Linked DNA regions of Homo sapiens. The protein of the gene in region 1 interacts with the protein of each later gene in a pairwise test. Each region holds a gene or a part of one and is shown on either strand. Other genes may lie near its edges. The genes, in order: RALGDS and RRAS2.

What was found.
Region 2: the proteins of RALGDS (region 1) and RRAS2 interact in a two-hybrid assay, tested with the Homo sapiens proteins (2 studies listed by BioGRID and IntAct).

Annotation. Positions count from the first base shown.
Region 1 is NC_000009.12:133,111,079-133,114,891, forward strand, and holds part of RALGDS (ral guanine nucleotide dissociation stimulator), read right to left. Parts: intron 1,075-3,813; coding exon 964-1,074; intron 1-963. UniProt on the Homo sapiens protein: Functions as a guanine nucleotide exchange factor (GEF) activating either RalA or RalB GTPases and plays an important role in intracellular transport. Interacts and acts as an effector molecule for R-Ras, H-Ras, K-Ras, and Rap.
Region 2 is NC_000011.10:14,348,985-14,352,797, forward strand, and holds part of RRAS2 (ras-related protein R-Ras2), read right to left. Parts: intron 1-3,813. UniProt on the Homo sapiens protein: GTP-binding protein with GTPase activity, involved in the regulation of MAPK signaling pathway and thereby controlling multiple cellular processes. Regulates craniofacial development.

The DNA.
Region 1 (3,813 bases):
AAAAATTTTTAAAGTAGAATTTGAGGTGCGGGAATGATTTAAATACTGACACCTTCAGGTCCGTTGTTAGCTGAGTAATGGTAGCTGCCCTGTGGGAAGAGCGTCATCTGAGAGCTCTAACAAAATATCCCCATTCTAGAGATGAGGAAACAGAGGCTTATCCAGGGGCTGGGAGGGACTGGCCCGTTAGGACGCACAGCATCTTCCCCGTGGCACTGTTTTGTTTTGTTTTGAGACAGTCACCCAGGCTAGAGTGCAGTGGTGTGATCTCGGCTCACTGCAACCTCAGCCTCCTGGGCTGAAGCAATTCTCATGTCTCAGCCTCCCAAGTAGTTGGGATTACAGGCACACACCACCATGCTTGGCTAATTTTTGTATTTTTAGTAGAGATGGGGTTTCACCATGTGGGCCAGGCTGGTCTCAAACTCCTGACCTTAGGCAATCCTCCTGCCTTGGCCTCCCAAAATGCTGGGATTACAGGCATGAGCCACTGCGCCTGGCTCCTGCAGCACTGTTGAAGTGTCCTCAGAGGACTCACAGTGGCCCCACAGTCATGAGGAGCTGAACTGGGGCAGTGGCTCCAGCCTCCCTTCTGGAATATTATGCAGCTGAGTCAGGCCCCGGCTCTCAACCTGGAGGAACCCCAGGGATGTGTTCTGGGAGATGGCAACTTGCAGAGACCTAACAGCCTGAAGCCCTTTTGTCCTTGGGTGAAGACAGCCCCACTACTCCAGATGGTGTGCACATCTGGGAGAAGGCATGGAGGATGGTGAGGCTGATGGCTGCACACCCGGGGAAGGGAGGTCAAACATGAAAACCCGATTAAGCCTGGGCTGGACAGTGGGGGTCGGGAAGGGAGTGAAGGCCGTTTCCTTTGGGATCAGAACTGGGGGCCCTCAAGTGAAAAAGTCCTGGGAGGGATCCCCAGCTGCGTCTCCCAGTGGAGACCCCGAGCGCACTCACCCCGAGCCAGCGCTGCCCCTTGTTGCCTCCGTGGTGCAGCTGCACCTTGCGCAGGGAGATGGAGTAGATGACTCCGTTGATCAGCTCCTCACCGATCTCCTGCGTGGAGCTCTGTGAAGACAACGCCCGGCAGCCGGGCGCGGGGACGTCAAGGGCCTGCCTGGCCACCGTGCAGGGGATGCACCTGTGTAACCTGTTTCCCAGATAGGGCACAGACTGGCGGCTGCACAGACCTACAGCCTGGGGTGGAATGAGATCACAGCTCGAGAGCCACTGTCCCGGCACTCCACTTCCCCAACCCGGCCAGCCACGACCTGGGACGTGATTATGATGAGTCCACCAGGCTTCCAATCCCCTAGTAACTGGCTTCTGCTCCTGCCCAGGACAGACCCACCCTCAAGCCATCCCCTTCCACACAGGGGACTGTTATTCAGCCATTGCACAGATGGGTAAATGGAGGCTGAGAGAGGAACAACTGGTCCAAGGTCATGCTGCCTCGGGTAAGTGGTGAGGCAGGGACCCCAGGGCTCTGACACGGCTGACTGCATCCAGGCGGCTATGCCCCAAGAGAAGGTCCCCCTACCTCCCCAGGGCCAGAGGCCCATGGGCATCCTCACACTCACCCCTCCTCTACCCAGCCTGGGGGGCCCTGGCTGACCTAGCAGGAACGCACAGCTCCTCTGGGCCCAGCCCTGGTGCGTTGGCAGCCCAGGTCTGGGCAGGTGTGGGGCACCCCAGACAGCCACATCCCAGCCACTTCCTTCCCCTCTGCTCATTCATGCCCTCGTGCCTGCTTGGGCAATGGGAGTTCCCAGTTCCCTGACCATCATCACGTGAGGGGACGGGTGTGAGAGGTGACGGTGCTGGTATCCAGGCAGATGCTGGGGTTCCACAGAGCCCTAAACCACAGGCCTAGACTGGAACAGGAAGGGGGCATCTGGCCCCAGGCAGTAAGGAAAGGCCGTTGTCTTAGGAGACAGACTTCCCCCACCTGGCAGGCTGGCCTAGGTCACTTAGCCACAATTACCCCCGGCCTCACAGCCCCCTATGCCACCTGCTCTGTCCAGGGACGGAATGAGCTTGCAGCGGGTAGAGGAGCCGGGGGGTTAAGGACATCAACCTCAGAGGTTAGGAAGGAGCTAAGAGGTACTGGCCTGGCCCAGGGTCATTAACCGCCCAGTCAGTGCCCCAGCCCAGGTAGGCGTGGAGCTCAGAGAAGGCCTGGCAGACAGTGCTGACTCAGGCCCTTCCCTCAACCCCAGCAGGAGCCAGGTAGACTGTCCAGCATGCTGTGGACGGGACCCTGGCCTCCTGCCTCCTGCGCACCCTCAGAGGCCCAGGAGCCATCCTGGAAGTCCACTTCCTCCGACCTGAGGTCGCCTCCCACGCTGGGCTTTGTACAACAGGAAAGCTGCGGGCATTGTGCCGGGCTCCTGACCGCCACCGCCTCTGGACAGAGAGCCAGCCCCATTTCTTGGAAGTTAGCAGGGAACCCACAGGCACACTCACACCCACACCCCACAAACAGCCCCGCCAGGGGAGGTCTGGCCCTTCCACTGACAGGAAAAGAGACATACGCTCACCCCCCTTTTCCTGACTCACACATCTCTCCCCTGCCTAGAAAGTTGTTCCTTTGAAAAGAAAAGCATTAGAGGTTACAGCGACCAGGGCCCCCAACCACCCGGGCCTCCTCAGGGGTCCCAGACTGCCTCCTGTGAAGGCCGTTGGCTCAGCTGGGAGTCTCTCTCTCTCCCAGGGATTTTAGCCACATCTGGACCAGCTGGGAGGCAGACAGTATCCTGAGTGTCCAAGTCACCGGCAGTGGCTCTGAGATCTCGTGCAGGACAAGCCCGCCACAGGGGACTAAACATTAACCCTGGGGGAGCCCAGCACAGCACCCAGGTCCTGGCTGAGCACCATCAGTGCCTGCTGGACAGAGGTGTCCCCAGGCAGGCCAATCCCCAGGAGGGGCTGAAGCCAGGTGGCCTCGGCTGTCCCTGAGCAGGTCTAGAGAGCGGCTCCTCCGTGAGCTGGCAGGCCAGCAGCTGGCCCAGCCCTGCTTGGTGTCATGTGATCCCTGCACCCTTCCCCCACCCCCGGGGGGCCCTCTTCTGCCAGCCGGGTGGTGGGGAAGGATGCAGGCCCAACACTGAGAGCCATGCATGCTTGGGGTAAGGGAGTTGCCACCCTGTCACACAGTCGGGGAGACGCTCTAGCCCGCGTGGAGCTGGCCTGTCTTCTCTGGTCGCTTCCCGTCACAGCAGCAGCAGGCATGGAACCAGACCATAGAGCTACGTGGAGTACAGGGGCTGTTTAAACCATCTGCTCAGATGGTGGAGGTGCAGGCTCCAGAGAGAGCTGCCCTGGGGTCTGGGAACAAAGTGGCAGAGTAAGGCCTCTATCCCTTGCCCCCTCACAGGACAGAGAAAGAAAGCAGCCAACAGCCCTGGCAGCTGCCCCAGAACCCTCTGCAGCAAGAAAGGCAGGGTTCCAGCACCCACAGGCCACCCTAGGTCACTCTGTTAGCAGACAGCCCATCTGGGCAGCGCCTGGGCCCCAGGGCACTCTGGCCGGGCTGGGAGCTCAGAGCGGGAGGAGCAGGAACGGCCTAGTGAACAGCTGATGCAGAGAAAACGCTTTCCCCTGAGGGCAGGTGCCCAGGCAGCCGCTATGAGCTGACTGCTAGGAGGAGAAAAGAACACCACGTGCTTGGCTGTGTCCTCAAGGGACACTCCTGTCCCACCCCTAGCAGGCATGCTGATGTCCCTGGGCTCTGGGACCCAGTCGGCAGCTGTGCCTGTAAACACACTGTCTGGCCTTCTAACATTTGGGTCAGTGCAGTGAGGGTGG
Region 2 (3,813 bases), on another chromosome or scaffold:
AGATAGAGTCTCGCTCTGTTGCCCAGGCTGGAGTGCAGTGGCGCGATCTCGGCTCACTGCAAGCTCCGCCTCCCAGGTTCACGCCATTCTCCTGCCTCAGCCTCCCAAGTAGCTGGGACTATAGGCACCCGCGACCACGCCCGGCTAATTTTTTGTATTCATTTTTTATTTTTATTATTTTTTTTAGAGACAGAGTCTTGCTCTGTCACCCAAGCTGGACTGCAGTGGCGCGACTTGGCTCACTGCAACCTCCACCTCCCAGGTTCACACCATTCTCCTGCCTCAGCCTTCTGAGTAGCTAGGACTATAGGCACCCGCCACCACACCCGGCTAATTTTTTTTTTTTTTTTGTATTTTTAGTAAAGAGGGGGGTTTCACTGTGTTAGCCAGGATGGTCTCGATCTGCTGACCTCGTGATACACCCGCCTCAGCCTCCCAAAGTGCTGGGATTACAGGTGTCAGCCACCACACCCGGCCTATATCTACATACTTCTAAAACTATGAATTTATGCCACTATCTGCAATTCCAATCAAACATCAGAGTTCATTTTAACCTTCACATTTTTCACCTTTGTAACTCCCTTCTCCAACAGTGAGAAACTGGCTCCCATTTTCCACAATATATTTACTTATTTGCTTATAACAGTATAGACAATTGCTTCAAAATTGCAAACCCATGCCTTTATGACAACAACAAAAACCAAAAATTCTAGTTAACTCTATTAACTAGAGTTCAATGTTTCTTTCAATCTTTTTGTCTTTATCCTGAGGACAGAGTTCAAATACTAGGATCAAAAGTTACCTAAATTAGTTGTTTTTCACTCCTTCAGTGTAGTTAAGTTACTCATTTGAAATACGGTTCAGTTCATTTGTTTCTATTTGTACTCCCTGTTAAGGTGTTTTTATTTGTCATCAGTTGATTTGGTTGGTGTGTTTGCTGCTTATATACTCAGTATGTGAAACATTAACATGGTTTCAAAAGTCAGAAAGGTATCCTCAGAAGGGTCCCTGCCCCCATTCCCTCTATCCTTTCCACCATATACCTTTTTACCCATCCTCTAGGAAATCAATCTTATCAACCTCCAATTTATCTTTGTGTTTTGTTTTTGCCCCAATGAACAAATACATACGTATTTTCTTATTTCTCCTTCTTTCTTACACAAAAGGTAGTATACACACAGTAGTAGATACTTTTGCACTTTTTTTTCACTGACTGTAAGTTTGGTTTGTGCGATTCCTCCAAATCTCATATTGAAATCTGATCCCCAAAGTTGGAGGTGGGGCTTAATGGGAGGTGTTTGGGTCATGGGGATGAATCCCTCATGAATAGATTAATGCCCTCCCTGGGACTGGGGTGTGAGTGAGCTCTTACTTATTAGTTCCACCACAGCAGGTTGTTAAAAAGAGCCTGGCGCCTCCCCCACTGGCTTGCTTCCTCTCACCATGTGATCTCTGCACATGCCACTCCCCTTCATCTTCTGTCATGAATGGAAGCTTCCTTACACCCTCACCAGAAGCAGATGCTAGTACTGTGCTTCTTGTACAGCCTGCAAAAACTCTAAGCCAACAAAACCTCTTTTCTTTATAAATTACCCAGCCTCAGGTATTCCTTTAGGGCAGGGGTGTCCAATCTTTCGATTTCCCTGAGCCACACTGGAAGAACTGTCTTGGGCCACACATAAAATACGCTAAACTAACGATAGCTGACGAGGTTAAAAAAAAAATTGCAAAAAAAAAATCTCATGTTTTAAGAAATTTTATGAATTTGTCTTGGGCCACATTCAAAGGTGTCCTGAGCCGCATGCCACTCGCAGGCTGAGTGTTGGACAAGCTTGTTTGAAAGCAAGACAAACCAAGACAAGTGAACAACATATCCAAGAAAGCACTCCATATCAGTTAATCATGCCCTCAGTCTTTTTCACAGGTGCATAATGCTCCATTGGATATTCCTACCACGTAGACTGCTTGTTAATTTTTGTAATTAAGAAATGCTGCAACCTTGTACATGTGTATTTTCATACTGTGGGAAGTGCATCTTCTGGGTAAATTCTGAGATTTGGGACTGCTGAGTCAAAAGGCATGTATGTGGTCAAATAAACACATCTTATGTTGCCTAATAACACATAATTTCTGTATTATTTCTGCCCCCCAAAAAATGCATAACCTGAATCTAATCATGAAGAAACATCAGCCAAACCCAAACTGAGGGGACTCTATAAGTAACTAATTTGTACTCTTTAAAAATATCAATGTCATAAAACACAGAGACTAAAGAACTGTTCCAAAGTAAGACATGGAAATAATGAATTGGATAATCTGAGATTTTCTTTTGCTATAAAAGGCGTAACTGGAACAACTGGCAAATTTCAAACAAATTCTACACATCAGGTAATAGTATAATAACAAATCAATGTTAATTTCTGAGTTAGGTTAGTATATTTTATTCATGAAAGCAAATGCAGCCAGGCACAGTGGCTCACACCTGTAATCCTAGCATTTTGGGAGGCCAAGGCAGGTGGATCACATAAGGTCAGGAGTTCAAGAATAGCCTGGCCAACACGGTGAAACTCCGTCTCTACTAAAAATACAAAAATTAGTAGCCGGGCATGGTGGCAAGCGCCTGTAATCCCAGCTACTCGGGAGGCTGAGGCAGGAGAATGGCTTGAGCCCGGGAGGTGGAGGTTGCAGTGAGCCAAGATCGCACCACTGAACTCCAGCCTGGGCAACAAAAGTGAAACTCCATCTCAAAAAAAAAAAAAAATTAGCCAGGTGTGGTGGTGGGCGCCTGTAATCTCAGCTACTCGGGAGGCTGAGGCAGGAGAATGCCTTGAACCCAGGAGGCGGAGGTTGCAATGAGCCGAGATTGTGCCACTGCACTCCAGCCTGGGTGACAGAGTGAGACTCCGTCTCAAAAAAAAAAAAAAAAAAGAAGACAGCAAATGCCCTGGTTTTTCGGAAATACACAAAGAGATATTTAAGGATAAGGGTGGCATCATGTCTTCAACTTACATTCAAATGATTTTAAAAACCATATATTGCAGGGAATAAGCAAATATAGTAAAATGTTACCATTTGGGAAATCTGGTTAAAGTCAAAAAAGAAAGCAACATCGGATGTCTTTTTAACACTTATATTCTTATTTCTACTGCTGAATTTTACTTACATGGATAAAGAGCTTTCTCCCAGAAAAAAGAATCATTGTATAAGGTGACAGTAAGTTAAAGACGGCAATATTAAACTGTTAGTATATACCGACAATAAACTGACTGCATTTTTAATTAAACTATAAGTTAAAGCTGTTCAGTGCTATGCAACAAATAATCACATGGCCTTTATAAAACACTAAAAATAAAATATAATTTATAAGACATCAAGGAGCTCAGTCCAATTATTCTCAAGTACAATTTAAGACAATTTATATTTCTTTGCATCTTTGAAACACATTTTTCTTTGCAAAAGAAATAAATCTAAGGCCTACCAACTACAAGTTTAAGTTTCAATCTCAAACAGACTCAGCAGCTCTGCCCAAAGTAATTCAAGATCAAGGCCTTTCAACAAAATTCATGACTATTAACTCCATACTGTCTACACGCAAAGTGAAAATCCTTTACTCATTATCACTTTTCATTAAGGAAGGCACGGTGGAATTAATATCCTAAAGACCATTTTCCCCAACCAGAAAAAAAGGCGTGTCAAGTGGCATCACAAAATCTGTTTCAATTTTAAAGACCAACTTTAATTTGAAAAAGAAACTTTTAAAATATATATATATAGAGAGAGAGAGAGAGAGAGAGAGGGAGAGAGAGAGAGAGA